Homo sapiens: one gene and its partners. The protein of the gene in region 2 purifies or fractionates together with the protein of the main gene of each other region. This does not show direct contact. Each region holds a gene or a part of one and is shown on either strand. Other genes may lie near its edges.

What was found.
Region 1: the proteins of PHF8 (region 2) and GLB1 purify together in Homo sapiens (co-immunoprecipitation; 2 studies listed by BioGRID and IntAct, with this or other methods). This does not show direct contact.
Region 3: the proteins of PHF8 (region 2) and AMPD2 purify together in Homo sapiens (co-immunoprecipitation; 2 studies listed by BioGRID and IntAct, with this or other methods). This does not show direct contact.

The regions. Positions count from the first base shown.
Region 1 is NC_000003.12:33,066,095-33,073,201, forward strand, and holds part of GLB1 (beta-galactosidase isoform a preproprotein), read right to left. Parts: intron 6,620-7,107; coding exon 6,450-6,619; intron 2,877-6,449; coding exon 2,726-2,876; intron 2,197-2,725; coding exon 2,136-2,196; intron 1-2,135.
Region 2 is NC_000023.11:54,034,423-54,041,529, forward strand, and holds part of PHF8 (histone lysine demethylase PHF8), read right to left. Parts: intron 1-7,107. UniProt on the Homo sapiens protein: Histone lysine demethylase with selectivity for the di- and monomethyl states that plays a key role cell cycle progression, rDNA transcription and brain development.
Region 3 is NC_000001.11:109,622,730-109,629,836, reverse strand, and holds part of AMPD2 (AMP deaminase 2), read right to left. Parts: intron 5,809-7,107; exon of another isoform or gene 5,748-5,808; intron 4,535-5,747; coding exon 4,404-4,534; intron 4,176-4,403; coding exon 4,045-4,175; intron 3,678-4,044; coding exon 3,609-3,677; intron 3,519-3,608; coding exon 3,410-3,518; intron 3,112-3,409; coding exon 2,925-3,111; intron 2,663-2,924; coding exon 2,521-2,662; intron 2,409-2,520; coding exon 2,319-2,408; intron 2,064-2,318; coding exon 1,934-2,063; intron 1,755-1,933; coding exon 1,560-1,754; intron 1,474-1,559; coding exon 1,342-1,473; intron 1,195-1,341; coding exon 1,031-1,194; intron 729-1,030; coding exon 602-728; intron 511-601; coding exon 347-510; intron 42-346; coding exon 1-41. UniProt on the Homo sapiens protein: AMP deaminase plays a critical role in energy metabolism. Catalyzes the deamination of AMP to IMP and plays an important role in the purine nucleotide cycle.

The DNA of each region.
Region 1 (7,107 bases), on a different chromosome or scaffold from region 2:
CATAAAAGTTGTCCTGCATGTAGTTGTCTCCTCAGCTGAGCTCCTCAGGGGACGAGGACCAGTGTGCCTGTATCCATCTGCTATGGTTGGAATGTTTGTCCCTCTGAAACTCATGTTGAAATCGAATCCCCAATGTGGTAGTATTGAGAGGTGGGGCCTTTAAGAGGTGTTGAGTCATGAGGGCTCAGCCCTCATAAGTAGATCAATCCACTCATGGATTAATAGATTAATAGGTTAATGGATTCATGGGTCATCATGGGAATGGGACTGGTGGCTTTATAAGAAGAGGGAGAGAGATCTGAGCTAGGACACTCAGCCCCCTCACCATGTGATGCCCTGTGCCCCCTCAGGACTCTGCAGAGTCCCCACCAGCAAGAAGGCCCTCACCAGATATAGCCCCTCCACCTTGAACTTCTTGGCCTCCATAACTGTAGGAAATAAATGCTTTTCTTTATAAATTACTCAGTTTCAGGTATTCTGTTACAAGCAACAGAAAACAGACTAAGACCATCCTTGCCACAGGACACAAAGCCTGGAGCATAGAACATATCCAAGCAATGTTTGCTGAATGAAGAAAAGAGTGACTGAACAGTGTATCCTCTTCTCAGTCACAGGAAGGCTTTTTTTCCGTATAAAATGAAGTTCTAATAAATTCTATATTTATATTGTCAAATAGGAATAATAAATGTACATGCCACATAAAGTTGGCATAAAGATTAAATGAGTTACCACAGTGAAAACACCAATAATATGCTAAGCGTGCAAAACATGAAGGTACTGGAGTAAGACAAAGAAAAAAACTATCATTTACACATTGCTCTATAAAAGTGGCCAGAATATAGAAGGCATTGCAGCTACCAAGCAATCCAATGACACCATCCCAGAAACTGTCATTTTGTTTTTATTTCTTTTTTTTTTTTTTTTTGAGACAGAGTTTCGCTCTTGTTGCCCAGGCAGGAATGCAATGGCGCAATCTGGGCTCACTGCAACCTCTGCCTCCCAGCTTCAAGCAATTCTCCTGCCTCAGCCTCCCGAGTAGCTGGGATTACAGGCATGCACCACCACACCCAGCTAATTTTGTATTTTTTAGTAGAGACAGGGTTTCCTCATGTTGGTCAGGCTGGTCTCGAACTCCTGACCTCAGGTGATCCACCCACCTCGGCCTCCCAAAGTGCTGGGATTACAGGCATGAGCCACTACGCCCGACCTTATTTCTTTTTTTGAGACAAAGTCCCTCTCTGTTGCCCAGGATGGAGTGCAGTGGTACAATCATGGCTCACTGCAGTCTCAACCTCCCAGGCTCAAGCAATCCTCCCACCTCAGCCTCCCGGACTACAGGCATGTGCCAGCACACCTGGCTAATTTTTATAGAGATAGGGTCTCGCTATGTTACCTAGGCTGGTATCAAACTCCTGGGCTCAAGCAATCCCTCCACTTTGGCCTCCCAAAGTGCTGAGATTACAAGTGTGAGTCACCATGCCTGACTTGTCATTTTGATTAGCGAGGTGCTATCATTGGCTGTGGAATATGCTAAGTAAATAGGAAGAGAAAGCACTGAAGTCAGTTGGTCAACCGCAAACAGGGTTCAATACCAATTCAAAGAATTACCAGTTTATCAGTAAGATCTGGTTACGTAGTTCAAAGCCTAATTTCCTAGAGGTTTAGTTTGTTGCTATGCACTGGTCAGTGATAAACACTCAGACTTTCACTAAACTTTCAAAAGTATTTGTGCAGAGGTACCCCAGCCTTCAAAATACCTCCCCCTTTTGATATAAATTGTTGAAGCTTTTTTGTTTGTTTGTTTGTTTTGAGACAGAGTCACGCTTTGTCACCCAGGCTATAGTGCATTGATACGATCTCGGTTCACTGCAACTTCCGCCTCCAGGGTTCAAGCAATCCTTCTGCCTCAGCCTCCTGAGTAGCTGGGATTACAGGCGCCCACCACCATGCCCAGCTAATTTTTTGTATTTTTAGTAGGGGCGAGGTTTTGCCATTTTGGCCAGCCTGGTCTCGAACTCCCAACCTCAGGTAATCCACCCGCCTCAGCCTCCCAAAGTGTCAGGATTACAGGCGTGAGCCACCGCACCTAGGCTGAAGCTTTTATAAATCTTCTCAAGACATCTGTAACAACCTACCTGGGTCGGAGGAGCGGAGAAGAATAGACTCTTTCTCTAGCAGCCAAGCAGGTAATCCTCCCTAGTTCAGGGAAAACAAGCCATTATAATGTCTGTTCCGTGAAGGGTGCTCAGAGGAGATAGAAATTACTATTAGTAGTTATGGAAAAGAATAAAAGCTTCAAGGGACAAGGGGTATTTGAGCTGGGCTTTTTGGTTTATAACTTGCAGAGAAATTAGAAATTGGAATGTAGGACAATTAAGATCACTCTGCATGAATGCAATGTTTTAAGGACCAAAGCCCTTTTCATAAAGATTTTTCAATTTAATTTCACAAATACCCTGTGACGTAGATAGAGAAGACACCATTAACTGCTTCTTACAGATGAGCAAGCTGAGGTATGTGAGTGACCACCAAGAGGAGAGCCCATGCCCTGACCCTGGCCTGTTTCTCTGCCTGGGCACCTTGTCAAGGTAAAAGACACCTGTGCTGGGTACAGTCCCAGGCCCCATGCTCTCTGGAATGCAGGTCTGCTTTAATTCCCTTTGCCCCAGAGCTGCTGCCTGCCAGCTCACACACACCAGGTAGAGCCCAGTCTAGCCACACTCACCATTTCCCACTCTGCACAGATGTAGGGCCCGGGCCTCAGGATAACCAGCAGTCCCAGCTCATGAGCCAGCCGAAGAAAATATTCCACATCATGGTCCTCAGAAAACTGGTACTGTCCTGGCCAGGGCTCATGAAAGTTCCAGGGCACATACCTGCCAAGACACACACAGCCCCTTCCTGGATACTTGGCAGAGTCAAGAAGAAAGAAGCGTGGGGAAAGGGCCTCATTAGGACTATTGCTAACACATGGATAAGAGGGAGAAGGCGCTTTGAAAGAAAAATTATCCAAGGCTGGGCACAGTGGCTCAGGCCTCTAATCCCAGCACTCTGGGAAGTCACGGTGGGTGGATGGCTTGAGCCCAGGAGTTTGACACCAGCCTGGAAAACATGGTGAAACCCCGTCTCTACAAAAAACACAAAAAAATTAGCCAGGGTGTATGCCTGTGGTCCCAGTTACCCTGGAGGCTTGAGGTGGAGGTTTGCTTAAGCTAGGGAGGTTGAAGCTGCAGTGAGCTGTGATTGTGCCACTGCACTCCAAACTGGATGACAGAGTGAGACCCTGTGTCAAAATAAAGAAAGAAAAGAAAAGAAAAATTATCCAGAATTTGGATATAAGGCAAAAGGGTGACTGCATTTCCTTTCCATGTTATAATGGAGGACTGTCCAATGGGCCCACTGAGGCTTCCTTCATTCTCCAGGGGAGATATTTTGTTTGACTTACTATTTACTATTGATTAAGGGAAGAACTTTGAAGTTACAGATTAATTTGTAGATTATTGCCTGAGAGAGAAACAAATGATTGTCATACAGAGAAGACAACTCTAAAGGTTGCTTTTTCATTCATTGCCCTTTATGATACTAACCAGTTTTATCTCTAAAGATAACTTTATTTGAACATGACTTTCTTGACTGACCGTAAACCTCCCTTCCTCAAATTCTCCTTTGAATTAGCTTTACCATCTAGCTAGTTTCCTCAGTAATAAGTTAAATAAATTTTTAAAAACTTTTATTTTAGGTTCAGGGGTACATGTGCAGGTTTGTTATACAGGTAAATTGCGTGTCATGGGGGTTTGGTGTACAGATTATTTAGTCACCCAGATAATCTGCCTAGTACACGATAGGGGAACTCACCCTCCTCCCACCCTCCACCCTCAAGTAGGCCCCATTGTCTGTTGTTCCCTTCTTTGTGTCCATATGTACTCGATGTTTAGCTACCACTTATAAGTGAGAACATGTGGTATTTGGTTTTCTGTCCCTGTGTTTGCTCAGGATAATAGCCTCCAGCTGCATCCAGTTTGCTGTAAAGGACATGATCTCATTCTTTTTTGTGATTTTTGTAGTATTCCATGGTGTATATGTACCACATTTTCTTTATCCAGTTAAATAAATTTCTGACATATGTCCATTATATACTTGTTTGTAAGTCAGGTTTTTAGCTTTTTGTAATTATATTTTGCATAAATAATTGAATTGAGGTGCTCTGTGGAAGGGGAAAGAGCTCAAAAATCCAGTATCCTACATAAATTTCTAAACTGTCTATAGAGAAAGATATGGTGTAGAACCATAAACCACAGGACACATAGACCTTCCCGCTTGGCAGCCTCTTGGGAGGGGCCTTGTTATGAATTTTTACAGCAGCTCCCCAAGCTAGTCAGACTTCATGGGGACACTTCTTAAAATCAACAACAACAACAGAAAACTCCAGAGTTATATCAGCACTAATTCCTATTACATAAAAATTATAGCTGGGCACAGTAGCTCTCTTCTGTAATCCCTGCACTCTGGGAGGCCAAAGCAGTAGGATCGCTTGAGTCCAGGAGTTGAAGACCACCATGGGAAACATAGTGAGACCTCATCTCTAAAAACAAAGCAAAACAAAAAAATTAGCTGGTGTGGTAGCAGTGCCTGTAATCCCAACTACTCAGGAGGCTGAGGTGGGAGGATCACCTGAGCCCACTTTAAGGTTTCAGTGAACTATGATTGAGCCACTACATTCCAGCCAGGTGACAGAGCAAGACCCCAGCTCTAAAAAATTGTTTTAATAAATAAAAATAAAAATTATATATGTCCATGTGAGGCTTAGGAAAAATAAGAATATTTTGCTGAAAAGTAGTAAGAGACATATTTATTTTTTGAAGAAATAATTTTTAGTACGTGTAGGAAAAACTCCAAGCCCTAGATCCTCTGACAAAAGATTTTGTCAGGAATCATGTGGCAGGAGGTAAAATGACAAAACCTTCTACCAGCTCCTCTGTCTACCTACAGACAGCATGGGATACAAAGTTAAATATGGAGCCATCCATTACCATCACAAAGCTCTCTTTGAAGACCCTGGGTTGTGTCATTTTGCGTGTGTGTGATCCCATGATTTCAGGGTTCCCTGGAACAGTCTTGGTCTTCCAGAACTCACTGTCGGAATTATAAACAGGTGAACTTGGGTTCACTCTGCCAGTGGCCTTAGAACCAGAATAATGAGCGCATTCTCCCTAAGTATCTATCTTCGGAATCTGCCTCTGGGTTTTCTCACTCTTCATCTTTGAGAAGTTATCAGCAATCCACATCAGCACTGCAAGAGCCAGAGCAGCCAGCCACACCAACTTTCTTGCCTGTTAGTTAGTTACTTTGCAATAGCAAAAGAGATGCAGAGAGATAGCTATTGGGATAATTCTACACCCTGAAGTTATACAATTACCGCAGCAGAACCACAAAGCCAAACTGGGTTTCAGAAATCTACCTAAGCACAAGGCTTATTCTGTTATTGGGGCTCAGAAAACAATACCCCAAAGTATGGCACCTTGGCATGCTAAGTACTTTGAACTAAAGGAGATCGGAAGGCCTTAGAAGCAAATCTTCTTTCTCTGGCCTTCTCCTGCTCTTCTGTTGCCCACCCCTCCTTCTCCCCTGAAGCAAGTCAAACCAGAATTCATCTTCCCCCAGTGTGGGTCATAGAAATTAGAACCCCTCTCTCCCAAAGCAAGCCAGAAAACCTAGAAAGGTCACCTCTCCCTTCTCCCTTCTAGACCCTCATTGCAGAGGGGTCCTGCTCCATACCCAGAAGGAAGGAATGCCACCCAGAAAGGCCAAGAAGAATCTGTTGAGGCAGGCCTTGAGGGTTTCCCACTTCAGTCCACCACCATTAGGTCAGAACCTTTCATGGAATCTAAGTGTAAAAAGTTTTCCTTGGGTCTTCTTTTCTGAAGACTCTCATGTCAGATAAAACTTACATATCTGTTATGCTTTTCTCCTGTTAACCTAGCTTTTTGTATGACTACAGCCATACCTGTGCTACAGCTGCCTGCATGCCTTCCCTTCCCTTCAAATACTAGCTGAACCTCTGACCAAAGATATGGCCTTGGGCAAATTTCAGTTTCACCAGCTATAAACAGGAACAATAATACCTATCTCGAGGAAATGGAATCATTAGTATAAAGTGCCCTGTATCTGGTAAGTGCTCAATCATTGTTACTTCTGTTTGCTTCCCCCATCCTTTTCCTTTTTAAGCTATTTATTTAATGATTTCTGATGATTAAAATTGAAGATTGGAAGAAGTAGTTAATTATTTGAAAAAGGGCCAGTCCGGCTCATGACAAGCCCCTCCCAGAACATCACACTGGACCATTTCCCATTTCTGAGCAATAAAATAGCCACCCTGAGAAATACAGTTGTATCTTCTCTCCAGAGTGGGTGTTCAGGCCTAGGTGAGAGCCACATGCCCTCCTACTTACGTCTGGATGGCGTTCAGCCCAGCCATCTTCATCTTCAGCAGCCGGTCCTTCCAGTAGAAGCGGGGCACACGGGAGTAGTGAATGCTTCCTGAGATGTAGCGAAATGGCTGGCCATCCTTGAGGAAGGAGTCCCGGCTATAGTCAATTTCAAACATCCTCTGGGTGGCATTCTACAGAGCAAGGATGGGGTCACATGAGAACTTCCACCTTCTGCATTTCAGAAGCCGATCCTTTGAGAGTAGCAAGTGACTCTCTGCCTATTGAATTTGTATAATGTGCTGATGGACTTAATGCTTGTTTTCTGAGCTATCATACAAACCATTGCTAAGCCAGGTCCACCAGGGGTACTCAGGTAAGAGAAATCATCTAAGAGGATCCACATGCAGGATTCCATAAGGCTTAGCTTCTAGAGGCCAGCACTGAGCTGACAATCAGTGGCTGAGATGATATTCCACTGTGCTGTTCATGGGGCTGGGGAACATCACACACACACACGCATGCACGCACACACGCCATTGTTGCTGTGACCTGCCTGAGCACTGGATGCACCTCAACAACAATGTCACTGGGATAACCAAGACCCATTAACAAAATTCTAAGTGTAAAATACAGGGCAAAAAGCAATGGATTAAAACTCCAGAGCCTGACGCCCCATCCT
Region 2 (7,107 bases):
CCCAGAGTTCGATATGAAGTGAAAAGATCCCCTAAGAATTCAAGGGAAATCAAGATATTCTCAGATTAAGGAAAACTAAACGTATCTGTTGCCAACACTTATCCTAAAAGAATGAGTAGGCTGGGCACAGTAGCTCATGCCTGTAATCCCAGCACTTTGGGAGGCCGAGACGTGTGGATCATTTGAGGTCAGGAGTTCAAGACCAGCCTGGCCAAGATGGTGAAACCCCGTTTCTACTAAAAATACAAAAAATTAGCTGGGCGTGGTGGCGGGCGCCTGTAATTCCAGCTACTCTGGAGGCTGAGGCAGAGAATTGTTTAAACCTGGAGGGGCGGAGGTTGCAGTGAGCCGAGATCACGCCACTGCACTCCAGCCTGGGCGACAGAGCGAGACTTCGTCTCAAAAAAAAAAAAAAAAAAAAAAAAAATCAGCCAGGCATAGTGGTGCATGCCTGTAGTCCCAGCTACTGGGGGGTGGGGGGCTGAGGTGGGAGGATCACTTGAGCCCAGGAGGTTTAGGCTGCAGGTGAGCCGTGACTGTTCCACTACACTCCAGCCTGGGCAACACAGCAAGACTCTGTCTCAACAACAACAAAACGATTAATTAGATTATAAACAAAAGAGCATTAAGGCATATAAAGAAAAGTAAAGTTTCAACCGGACATGGTGGCTCACGCTTGTAATCCCAGCACTTTGGGAGGCTGAGGCGGGCAGATCATGAGGTCAGGAGTTCGAGACCAACCTGGTCAACATAGTGAAAACTCGTCTCTACTAAAAATACAAAAATTAGCCGGCTATGGTGGACCACACCTGTAGTCCCAGCTACTCGGGAGGCTAAGGTGGGAGAATCGCTTGAACCCAGGAGGCAGAGGTTGCAGTGAGCCGAGACCACATCATTGCACTCCAGCCTGGGTGACAGAGTGAGACTCTGTCTCAAAAAAAAAAAGGAAAAAGAAAAGTAAAGTTTCTACTCTTCAATCAAACTGGTAAAATGTCAAGAGCAGTTGCTTATGGTAAGTTATATGTATAATGTAATACCTAGAGCAAGTACTGAAAAAAGCAATACAGAGATAACTCGGGCCAAGAGCAGTAGTTCATGCCTGTAATCCCAGCACTTTGGGAGGCTGAGGTGGGAGGATCATCTGAAGCCAGAAGTCCAAGACCATCCCAGGCAACAAAGGGAGGTACCACCAACCTACACCCACACCCTCCCCACACAAAAAATTTTAAAAATTAGGGCACACAGTGGCACATGCTTGCAGTTTCAGCTATTGTAGAGGCTGAAGCATGAGGAGATTGCTTAAGCCCTGGAATTTGAGGCTGCAGTAAACCATGATCAAACCACTGCACTCCAGCCCAGGTGACATAGAGACCCTGTCTCAAAAATAAATGAATGAATGAATGAGTAGGCCGAGTGCAGTGGCTCACACCTGTAATCCCAGCACTTTGGGAGGCCGAGGCAGGCGGATCACCTGAAGTCAGAAGTTCAAGACCAGCCTGACGAACATGGAGAAACCCCGTCTCTACTAAAAATACAAAATTAGCTGGGCGTGGTGGCACATGCCTGTAGTCCCAGCTATTCAGGAGGCTGAGGCAGAAGAATCGCTTGAACCTGGGAGCCGGAGGTTGCGGTGAGCCAAATCGCGCTCCAGCCTGGGCAACAAGAGCGAAACTCCATCTCAAAAAAAAAAAAAAAAAAGAAAAGAAAAAAGAAAAAATCAGCAAGGATTAGAAGAATTCAGCAACACCATTAACCAACAGTAGTTAATTGACATTTATAGAACACTCTACCCAAAAATGGCAGAATACACATTCTTTTCGAGTGATCATGAAACATTTACCAAGATAGACTCTGGGCTATAAAACAAATCTCAATAAATGTAAAGGAATTGAAATCATACAAAGTATATTCTCTGACCACTATCAAACTAGAAGTCAGTAACAGAACGATAACAGGAAACTCTACAAAAACTTCAAAATTAAACAACATACTTCTATACTTCATGGGTCAAACAGGAAGTTTCAAGGGGAATTTAAAAATGCCTTGAGGCAGCAGGAGGATCACTTTAGCCCAGGAGCTGGAGGCTGCAGTGAGAGCTATGATCCTGCCTCTGCAGTACCGCCTGGGCAACAGACTGAGACACTGTCTCAAAAAAAAAAAAAAAAAAAAAAAAAAAAACTTTTTTTTTTTTTAATGCCTTGAACTACATGAAAAGGGAAAATGTAACATATTAAAATCTATTGGTGCTGAGAAGAAACTTAACAGCTAAAGGCTTACATTAGAAAAGAAAGAAAGGCCGGGTGCTGTGGGTCACGCCTGTAATCCCAACACTTTGGGAGGCCGAGGCGGGTGGATCACCTGAGGTCAGGAGTTCGAGACTAGCCTGGCCAACATGGTGAAACCCCATCTCTATTAAAAATACAAAAAATTAGCTGGGCGTGGTGGCGAGCGCCTATAATCCCAGCTAGTAGGGAGGCTGAGGCAGGAAAATCACTTGAACCCGGGAGGTGGAGGTTGCAGCGAGCCGAGATCGCGCCATTGCACTCCAGCCTGGGCAACAGGCTGTTTCAGAAAAAATAAAAAAAAAAAAAAAAAGAAAAGAAAGTCTCAAATCAATAATCTAATCTCCCACCTCAAGAAACTAGATAGAGAGCAAAATAAACCAAAGGAGGAAAAAAATAGTAAAGGCAGAGATCTATTAAATTGAAAACAGAAAGACAACAGAAAAAGTCAATGAAACAAAAAGCTTGTTCTTTGAAAAGATCCATAAAACTGACAAACCTCTAGCAAGTCTGACAAATACGAAGACAAATTTTTTTTGTTTGTTTGTTTTCGGTTTTTTTGAGACAGGGTCTCGCTCTGTCACCCAGGCTGGAGTGTAGTGGCATGATCACAGTTCACTGAGGCCTCAACTTCCTGGGCTCAAGCAATCCTCCCACCTCAGCCTCCCGGGCAGCTGGGACTATAAGCATGTGCCACCCACCCTGCTAATTTTTGTATTTCTTGTAGAGACGGGGTTTTACCATGTTGCCCAGGCTGGTTTTGAACTCTTGGGCTTAAGCAATCCACCAGCCTTGGCCTCCCAAAGTGCTGGGATTATAGGCATGAATGACATCACATGCCCAGCCTGATACATTTTTAGTATCACTAATGAAACAAAATTATCACTACAGCACCTGAAGATATCAAAAGGATAATAAAGAAATACTATGAACAATTCTACAAACATAAATTTGACAACTTAGATGAAATGGGTCAATTCTCGGAAAGTACACATCCAACATAAAATAGGTAATTTGAATAGTCCTATAACTACTAAATGGAATAATTTTTAAAACTCCCCCAAAAGATAAAGATAATTAGGCGAAGTGGTTAGCATAGTGAGTGGAACACTAGCTTGTGCTCAATAAACGATAGCTATAACCATTTTATTTAAATCATCACAACCTCTCAGGGAAACTAAGGCTTCACAGATAAGAAATTATTTGCTAATATGTAACAGAATCAGAATTTGAACCCAGATCTGAAATCAGTGTCCTTTCCTCTAGAGTTAAAAATCCACACCAAAGTTATTCCCTTGGGCATGTATCAACCAATATTTCTTTTATAAACAGGAAAACTGTAGAGTGAAATTTGTGCTAAAAATCCCAGAAATCAATAAATGCTTGCCAACTAGTTTTCTCCACTATTGTACAGCAATGATTCTCAAATGTTAGGGTGAATCAGGATCACTTGTTTGTTAAAATATAGACTGCTGAGTCCAAGTCCTAGCCCAAGAAATTGCATTTTGAACAAATTCCCAGTTGATGAACTGTACTTTAAAAAAGGTCGTTCCTCCTGTGTTAGCTCACTTAGGAATTAAAAAAGAATAATATAAAAAGAATGTTCATTCCAATTTTTCTGTACCAAAAAAAGAGAATGACTGGTGTACAGTAATGATATGTTAGTCCATCCATCCCTCAGTATCAGAAGCTATCACACTCCGCAGAAGGGGAAGGAATCAAGACAGGATAATGTTCTAAATCAGTGGTTCTCAAGGGTGGGCCCTTCTTACCTACTGAATCAGAAATACTGTAGCTAGGGCATCCCTAACTTGTGTTTCATCAGGTCTTCCAAGTGAGTCTGATACATGCTGAAGTTTGAGAACCACCGCTGTACAAATCAAAGTGTTTTTGCAAAATCCAGCTTCTTACAGGAAGAATGAAGCAATACCATGTTTTTTGCACTTCTGAGAACCTGGGCTCTGGAATCAAATAATTCAAAGTTCAAATCCACACTCAGAAAGTCACTTAACTTCCACGAATTCCAGATTCTCAGCTGCAAAATGGAATAGTTGCCTCGCTTGTTATAACCTTTCCAAAAAGTAACTTGGCATTATATTCCATAATCCCTAGCTGGACTTCAAGAAATCTATCCTACAAAAGTCACTAGAGGCCGGGCATGGTGGCTCACACCTGTAATACCAGCACTTTGGGAGGTCAAGGTGGGTGGATCACGAGGTCAGCAGTTCGAGACCAGCCTGACCAACATAGTGAAACCCTGTCTCTACTAAAATACAAAAATGAGCCGGGTGTGGTGGCGCGCACCTGTAATCCCAACTACTCAGAAGGCTGAGGCAGGAGAATCACTTGAACCCAGGAGGCAGAGGTTGCAGTGAACCAAGATCGTGCCACTGCACTGCAGCTTGGGCAACAGAGTGAGACTCTGTCTCAAAAAAAAAAAAAAAAAAAAGAAGTCACTAGAGATATGAACAGATTTCTATCACCTCTAGGTATCTGTGGATTTAAAATTTGTTGGCTTAACTCTTGCAAGCAACCATAAAAAGTCCACAGTATGTAGTAATTTCCAATTGTGCTGAAGTACAAACTTAAATGGCGCACTATAAGCCTGGTGTGTTTCTGTGAGCAATGCACTGAGTAAGCAAGAGCAGCCACCCCCAAGGACCTGATTCTCAGCTAGCTTCCTTGTTCAGTGGGGGCCCATAGAGAGAAGCAAAAGAGATTTTTAAAATTTGGTGTATTTCATGGAAAAAAATTAAGGCAGTTAACTTGTGTTAGAGTGTACACAGAAACACACAACTCACCACAGAAATGTGATTAAAGAGGGGCCTGGCCCATAAGCCCATTTCTGTATTTGTAAGTTTAGAATTCTTTAAGGCCTCAATGGTGCTCCTTATAAATAAATGTCAAGTATCTACTAGGCAAAGATGCTTTCCATAATGTTTTTGTTTTAATCAGCACTCATATCAAGATGCAAAACCTTTCCAGAACGCCCAAAGTTTCCTCACATTATTTATAATATAAAAAAGTACAAATAATGTTCAAAAAAGTACAATGTCCAACCATAAAGGAAATTACCAAATTAACCGGTGACACATATATATTGTGGGATATCAGAAATCAAGTTTAGCTGAATATTTAATGAACTGGCAATTACATTGTAACATTAACTAGAAATAAAAAATAGGTTGTAAAATGGTATTTATAACGCAATCCCATCTTGTAAAAATATGTTTATATTCTAAGTCAAAAGATGGGAGTTAATGCAACAACAAATTTAACAGTGGATTGTGCCAGACAGTAGTAGACTTAGGTGAGTTATATTTCCTTCTTTATTCTTTTTCTGTGTTTTCTACAACAAGCAGGTCTCACTATAAGAGCAAGAAAAAATTAAGAACATTATTTAAAAGAGAAATATCCAACTTTCAGGCTTGCATATAGACTAAATAATTTGTCCCAAGTCCCTGTCATGGGGTCCGGCAGACATAAGCAGTCAGGAAGCATTCATTCCTGTTCCCTGTTTCCAGAGTGAGGAGTTAGCAGGAGCCCATTTTACAGGTCTGAACCTACACATTTCCCATACAATCCAAAGTAAGGGCCCCAGGCAACAGCTTTTTTTCATGAAGACTCATTAACTCATTCAAAAATGTACTCAGCATCTATTACATGTTTAGCACTGAACTAGGTTCTGGGGATACCAAAAATGAAAAGAAGACATCTCTGCCCTCAGGAAGCTCTGGCTAACGAATGACACAGATATATTTATAACTATGATATGATTAAATAATTACTTTTTAATAAAGACGCACACAAAGTGCAATGGGAACCAAGAGGAAGAAGGACTTTTACACCTTTTACAGTCTGTGAGTTGCAAAGGGGAGAGGGCATTAGTGGGAGTTTGCACGTACAAAGACAAAAAGGCATAAAGGAGTATAAAATTTTCCCAGAACTATAGGTAGTTCAGTCTTGCTAGGACATAAAGAACAAGAGAGGAGGAGTGGCAGGAAATGAGAATAAACAAGTAGATCACAAAAGGTCTTGTCTGTCATATAAAGGATACTGAATTTTATCCCAGAGACGAACCACTGAAAGAAGAATGTTAAGCTGAGGAGTGACTTGATCAGCACTAGCAAAGACACCAGGAATCCTGAAAGACATCTTAATCCCCACTTATTTTCAGGGCAAAGGAAAAGGTCCCACCCTCTAGGGTTGTCCCCTCTTAAATAACATGAGGCAGTAAAACAGAACTCTGTGCCGGGCACACAATAAATATTCAATAGAGATCAGTTAAACATGAATTTGGATACGGGGCAAGGGGGCAGTCCCTGCTGAGGGCAGGATTTTAGCAGCACCAGCACCTATAGTTTGGTCTTGAGTGTGATAAACAGAAATAGCTTGCTGGGCATAGTGGCTCATGCCTGTAATCCTAGCACTGTGGGAGGCTGAGGCGGGCGGATCGCTTGAGGTCAGGAGTTTGAGACCAGCCTGGCCAACATGGTGAAACTCCATCTCTATCAAAAAAGTACAAAAAAATTTGCCGGGCGTGGTGGCGTGCACCTGTAATCCCAGCTACTCGGGAGGCTGAGGCACGAGAATCGCTTGAACCCGGGAGGCAGAGGTTGCAGTGAGCTGAGATCATGCCATTGCACTCCAGCCTGGGTGACAAGAGTGAGACCTTGTCTCAAATAAAAAAAAAAAAAAAAGAAAAAAGAAAAAAAGAAAAAGAAATAGCCCCTCTGGAGGAGACCAGACAACTGAAAATTCTAGAATCTAACAAGCAACAGGAGGAGGGTGCCATACACTGTTTTGTTGTGCTCCAGTGTACAAA
Region 3 (7,107 bases), on a different chromosome or scaffold from region 2:
CACAGTGTGGCCTCAGCACAAACGTGTGGAAGCCCCTCTGCCTGGGGGACATGAAGACAGTGTCAGCTCCTGAGCCTGGGATCACCTGGGCTCACCGGAGCCCCTGACCCCCACCCAGCACGCATATGTCCTCCAGCCAATAACTATGCAGGCCTGGGATAAGGGGGACAGGGGTAGATTACTGGCTGTGAGGGGTGACAGATGTAGCTCCAAGGGCAGAGAAAGAACCCATCCAGTCCAGGCAACAGGTGGGTCAGAGGTCTAGTGGCCCTGGCCCAAGGTGCCAAGAGTGAGGTTTGTTGGGCGAGAGATGGCATAGCAAGCAGACACAGGGTGGTGCAGGCACCTGCGCAGGTGGTTCAACATGGCCATGTTGGCAAAGGTGTAGTACAGGTAGTAGGCATAGGGTGGGTTGTCCTCCTCCACCCACGCCTCAGGCAGGGGGCTCTCCAGGTTGAAGACATGGTTTTCAGGCTTGGACTCATCATCCACGCTGTCAAAACCATCCACCTAATACAGAACCCTGGGGTCAGAACCAGAGCTGCAGCTGGATGCGAAGCCGGCTGCCCTCCCCATACCCAGCTCTGCGCTGCCTGCTCACGTGCTCTAAGAAGAGATGCAGTTCCGGGTGGCTGGCAGGGTGCACAGTGGCCTCGAACAGTGGCAGGAAGATGTTCTCCAGCATCTCCTGGAAGTTGGCCAGCTGGCCCTTGGTACGGTACACATCACTGCAGGTGAGACAACATGCAGGTATGTGCAAGTCAGGGCCAGTGGGAGGAAACCCAGCGGTCCAGCAAGGGTCAGAGCTTGGCCCAAGAGCGCAGGGGCGCATCTGAACCATATTGGGAAAGCAAGGATACCCAGGTGGGCCAGGCTGGACAGACCATGGATGGGACCAGGAAGCCCTTCCTTGCACTCAGAGGGGTTGGCAGGGACAAGGGAGGCTCAGCCATCCTAGGAGGGCAGGAGGCAGGCCCTGACCCCTTGAATATGACCCCGCAGGTTCCCCTCCCACTCCAGGGACACTCACAAGAGGCGGGGCACCTGCACCAGCCAGCGCACGTTGGGGGAGTGCACGCGGTGCATGACGGCCCAGCGCGCCAGCTTGTCCCACTCATCCCTCGAGCGCCCGTAAATGGAGAGCCGCAGCTCTGCATTCTGGTATTTGCTCTCCTCCAGGTCTGACATCACCTCCTAGACATGAGGTGAGCTGAGTCAGACATGAGGTGAGCTGAGTCAGAGCTCTTCAGGGGGTCATCTGCCTACCCTCCTTGAGTCTCACCCCCTAAAAGCCCCCAGATCCTCAGGCTCGAGGCTTGGCAGGGAAGGCTGCCTCCTTACCTTGATGATGTGAGCAAAGTACTTCCCAGATACCCTGTTGTCCGTCTTGATGAAGATCTCTCGGAGGACGGACTCCCCAATAGGGTTGTATTTGGCATTAAACTTGTCAAAGCGATGGAAAGTGTTCCTGTCCTGGGGGACATGGGAAGGCTCAGGTCACCCGTGACTCCTGGTCCCCTGACTGACTCAGTCCCACAGCCCACGCCACTGGCACAGACCGCATGCACATCCAGCGTGTCCACACTCAGGTCGTAGGCCGTGAGATTCATGCTCTCAAAGACCTCCCGCAGCGTCTGTTCACGGCCCTGCTCCACGTGCACGATCTCCTCCAGGTGCCGCTTCATTGCCCGCTTGATGAAGCGCAGCAGATGCTTCTGGTTCATGCAGGACGAGGCATGGATGTGGGTGTCCACCTGGAATGGAACAGGGCACTGCTGATCCACCAGAGGCCAGGAAGGTCTGGGGCCTGGGGCAGTGCAATGGGAAAGGACCCTCTGTACTGGATGCTGTGTGGGGGGCCTGGCCCTTGAAGGGGAGGCTGGGCAGAGGTGTGGGATGAGGACATGGAGACGGCCACGGGGTGAGGGCCCACCTTGCGGATGTTGTAGAAATCTCGGTGTGGCACTTTCTTCTGGGCGGCCAGCTCCTTCATCTCATTGAGTAGCACATGCATCTGGAACTTGGAGCTCAGGTACTGCAGCCGGCGGTAGCAGAATGACTTTCTGGGCATGAGGAGAACAAGGCAGGGACTTAGGCCCTGAAGGGAGGCACCTGGGGAGGGCTTGGGTAGCAGATCAGAGGGAGCAGGTGGGAGGGTAAGGATGGAGGCTGCCAAGAGGGAAGTAGACTGCGGGGAAGTCGAGGGCTCAGCAACTAGGAAGGGCAAGACACCAGGTGATGGGAGTCTGGGGCAGAACTGGGGCTGGAGAATCTGGGCTGGGAGGGGAGCTAAGTGTCTGGGATGGCAGGGGACTCACATGGGGCCATTGATAATCAGGGCCATCAGCACATTGACGTCAGCCACAAATTCCTGCAGGTCAGGGTATGGCAGCTCCACCTCTGAGCAACTGGCATGGAGGGGAGCTTGGGTGAGGAGAGCAAGCCGAGCCCTGTGGCCTCTCCCAAGCCAACGCAACCTCCCACGCTGCATCCCCCCAACATGCACCACACCCCTCTTACTGCTCGTCGGGTTCCCTGCGGGTGTAGACGTGCACCACACCCCGCACCATGCGCAGACCCAAGCCCAGGTCCCCAGGCATGGTGCTTGGCTCACAGTGCTCATACGGGTGCTGCTCCAGCGCAGGGGGGTGCACCGGGGCATCTGCAGGGGTGAGGAGGGTAAAGTCAGAGCAGGGCTCTTCCAAGCCACCCACTGCCCAACCCAAAGGCCCCACAGAGGGCAAGAGATGTTGAAGACCCAGTAGGTCAGACAGCTCCTGCCCAACCTCCACCCCTGTACCCCAAGAGGTTGGAATGAGCCTGGGTTGTAGGGAGAGGCAGGCAGGGCAGAGGTGCCCAGGCACCAGGCTGAGAAGCCCAGGAGGCTAGGGCACATGGCATGGGGCAGAGATGGGGAGTCCCACCAGCAGACACAGGGGTGTCGGGGCCCTGTTCATAGGTCCGGGTCTCCAGAGGCTTTTCAGCCAGCTGCTGCAGGTAGCGGCGGGTGGTGGGGCAGAAGCTCTGCAGGGACAGGGCCATGTACTTCTCCCGGATGAAGAGCGCCCGCACCACACTCTTGGCTGCATCCAGCAGGTCTGTGAACGGCACCTGGAGATGAGGATATGCGATCACTCTCCTCAGTCTTGGACTCAGAGACCTCCTCCCTAAGGCCTTATCTTAGAACCCAAACTATCCCCACCTCCCACAGGCCCTGACCCCCAGGAACACTCAGATCACCCTGGTCCAGCACATCAAGTGGCTCCTAGGCAGCCCCTCTGCCCCTCCGCCCCTCCAGCTGCTGGAAAGAGAAACGCCCTTTCCAGCCCCCACCCCCAGCTCTCCAGGCTGGGGGAACCCACTAAGACATAGGTGATGGCGACTCACCCAACATACACCCCATACTTACCCCACACTTCTCCTCCCCAGAGATGGTGACCCGCTGAAACTCCCGTTCCAGCACATCACGCTCCCGCAGGCTCCGGTCACCCTGCCCCTCACCCTGTTCCTTGTAGAGCCTGCAGGGGGTGCATTCAAGGGAGGGGTTTAGAGCCGGCAGAAGGGCAGGCTGCAGCTCCGCATCCCCTGTGCCCCTCTGCCCTCCTCACTGTAGGTCCGAGTCACTGTCCGTCTTCAGGAAATCTTGCTTGGCCCGAAGCAGGATGTCTGGCTCCAGCCTAGAGGCAAGAGGGGTGAGAAGTCAGGCAGATCCCGAGGGACGGCCCTTGCTCCCAGGTCCCAGCACCGCACTAGGTGCTGTGCACATGTTGTCACATGTGATCCTCAAAGGCAGAGCTGCAGAACCCTGTGCTGTTCTCACTCACTTTAGAGATGAGAAAGCAGACCCATAAGTTAAGCAACATGACCCAGCCACACCGGCGGCTAGAAGACAGAACAGAACCCAGCAGCCCGACTCCAAAGCCCACTCTATGCTCCCTGTGCAGACCCCCCAAGGCAGGGTGCGAGGGAAAGAGGCAGAAAAGGGGCTCTGAAAGGGTCTGGAAGGGTATGGAGGGAGACTAAGCAGCTGCCTGCCGGGCTCACTTGACATCCTGGCTGATCTGCCGCTCCAGCCGCTGCCGCCGCTCCTCCAGCTGTTCAATGGGGCTCTCCTCGGGGAACTCATACGGGGCACTACGGAGCTCGCTCTCAGCCAGTGAGCGGGTGAACAGCTCCTGGGGGGAGGGAAGGAAGGTCAGCATGGCTGGCCCTCCGCCCTCGGGCACTCTCCTACAGAGTCTGGGGATGGGGTGAGGGCAGCAGGACCAGGGGTACCTGGGAGAGGCTGAGGATCAGGAGACAGCCAAGCGTGAGGTGAGGGGACAGCTTGAGGTGAGGGGTGTGGGGAGCAGAGGCAGGGCATGGAGACACGGGGTGAGGGTGCGGGTGGTGCCAGGTGATACCTCGGCGATCTCCTTGCATTTGCCATCCATAGACGTGCGCAGGTCGAGCGGGAAGTGCTTGAGGCAGGGGGCGGGGCCCGGCAGGGATCGGGCAGACTGCAGCGGAGGGGCCCCCAGACCACCCCGAGCCTCTGCAGAGACAGTGATGCCAGGGTCAAAGGGTGGAGGGGCAGCCCCTGAAAGCCCTGGGCCCCTGCCCTGCCTAGGCCAGCTCCCGAGAGAGCCCAGGGTCGGGAAAGAGGGCAGTCCCTCCTCAGTAGCTGAGGAGTAGGCCTGTGTGTGTGGCTCCCAAAGGGCTCACCCTCACCTCTAACGCAGGGACCCCTCACCCATTCCAGGCTTGGGGTGGGGATTCTGAGTCTGCCCCTAGAACAAGTAGATTCATTACCTCCACAAATGAGACTAGAGCCTGATCCCTCAGGCCATGAGAATCTCCACGTGACTACCTCCCAGAGGCAGGTGCACGTGTGTACGTGTGCACACACATGCACGTACGCACACAGACACCCTCAGAGACACACACCAGGTGCTTGGTAAGGACCAGGCGGCCACACCAGGGACCCCCAGCCTGCAGCTCCCAGGGCAGGCAACCCAGGATCAGACCCGCCCCTGGACTAGCAGATTCTCCACTCAAAGGGGCAGGGCCCTGTGCCTGACATCCTAGACCTGTGCAGCACAAGAGAAGCCGCAGCTGCTGCTCAGCTCTGACCTAGGGACGAGCCCTCAAGGGAAGAGGAGAGGAAGTGGAGGGCCTGGTTGGCAAGGGAACCCTACCTCCTCCCTGGAGGCCCGCCCTGTCCCCCAGGGCCCCAGGGCTGCCAAAATGTGGCCTGGCCTTAGCCTGCCCCTCCAAAAGGAGCTGCCACAAACAGTCTATGCCACTCAGGCCCCAGGATCTGGACCGGGGGCACCACAGAGGGCCCTGGGGAAGGGAGTGTCAGAAGCCAGGGGTCTTTCTTCATCAAGACTAGACTTTCCATCTGTACCACGAGGAGGCTGGCACCAGAGGGCCGTGAAGCTGCTGGTCTATGGGGGCTGCCAAGGCTTCCAGCCTACCCCGAAGGACCCTCCCTGGGCTCAGCAGCCCCAGCTCCTCAGTGAGAAGCTTTCCACACCCAAACTGCCTCTCTCAGCCGGCTGTAAGGAGTGCTCCCCTCCAGCACCCTCCACCCTGGCTTAGGGAAGGATTACAGGATCTGCCTAGGTAGCCGGCCTTAAAGTCTCTGCGCCCATTTCCCAATACTCCAGGACTGGTCCCAAAGCTGGACAAAGGGAAGAGGGAGGGGCCTGCCCCAGATCCAGGACCCCGTCCCCTGCGCACCCCGGCCCCTGCCTGAACCCTACCTGCAGAGTGCAGGCAGCTCCGGCCAGCAGCCCTGTGCCCCTTGCCCGCCTGTTTGCCAGTGAAGCTGCAGCCGGTCCCTCAGGGGCTGGCACAGGCTGTACCAAGTGCAGCTGCAAGCAGGGGAGACCCTGAGATGGCCGTGAGCACGGAGCTAGGGGAGTTCAAGGGAGCCCAGAAACCAAGGGAAGGAGCATCAGAGTTGGGAGATAAGACGAACTCCAGAACTGAAGAGGGCCTCCACCTCTACAGTGCCAGGGAAGACCCAGCCAGATGTGAGGCTCCTAAGGGGGAGTAGCAGGGTAGGCTGACTTGGGCAGGGCAGGCCGACAGGGAGGAGCCAAGCCTCCTTAAAATCCACTGCCCTAGGGGACAGTGAGTGGGCAGGGCCTGGCTGGCCAAAGAGTAAGAGGGGAGAAAAAGGAGGGGAACAGCGCTCTTCATCACACCCACAGCCCCAGGTTGGCCTCTTCTGGCAGTGGCCTTGTTGCTCACCACTGTCCTCTGGGCCCTGATTATGGCATCCCTCAGGAGAGACAGGGCCTTTGCTGGGGTAGGAGCTGGCTGGCAGCTGGGGAAATGGCCCAGTCTAGGTAGGGGCCAGTCACTGAGGCTTCCCCGCTGCCCAGCTGCTCAGGGGGCTGGTTCGCAGGCCCCTAGACCTGCAACCCCTGATCCAAGCCTATCATCAGGGACAGGACAAACTGTCCAGAATAAGTTTGGGAGAAAGGGGGCTAGAATTTGGAGAACATGGATCTGATTCTGTTCCTGCTTCCGGGCATGTCTCTACCTACCTCTGGGAGGCTTTGGGTCCTCATCTACAAGTGGGGCGATAAGTGGTCCCTTCCCTGCCTAGCCACAACTGCCATAAGGCTCACAGAGATAATGGCTCTGCAAGTGTTCTGCAAAACACCAGGCTCTGTGTTGAGGCAAGGCCTGCAATTATGAACTCCTGGGACCCTCAAAATACATTCTACCTGTAGCCCCGCCCACTGAGGACAGTGGGAGGTTCCCTGGGCCCAGTGCAGGGCAAAGGCAATAGGCCAGTAAAGGGCAGTGAAGTGAACTTGGCAGGAGTGGAGATGGGGTGACTCTATCTCTTACTTGGAAAAGGACAAAGTGGGAAGAGGAAGAAAAGAGGGGAAGCTGTCTCACCCCCAGAGTGTAAGATCTTTTCTTGCCCGAGAACCCTGATTTTACACACCTCCTCCCTACATATGGCCCCAGACCACTTCTGACTCCTTCTAGGGGAGGCCGACCACAGACCTCCATGGCTGGTTCATATTGGGTCAGCAGGAGTTGAGTCAAAGGCTCAAATCTCAACCCCCTCTCCTAGCAGGGGGGTCTCAGGCTCCACAGCAA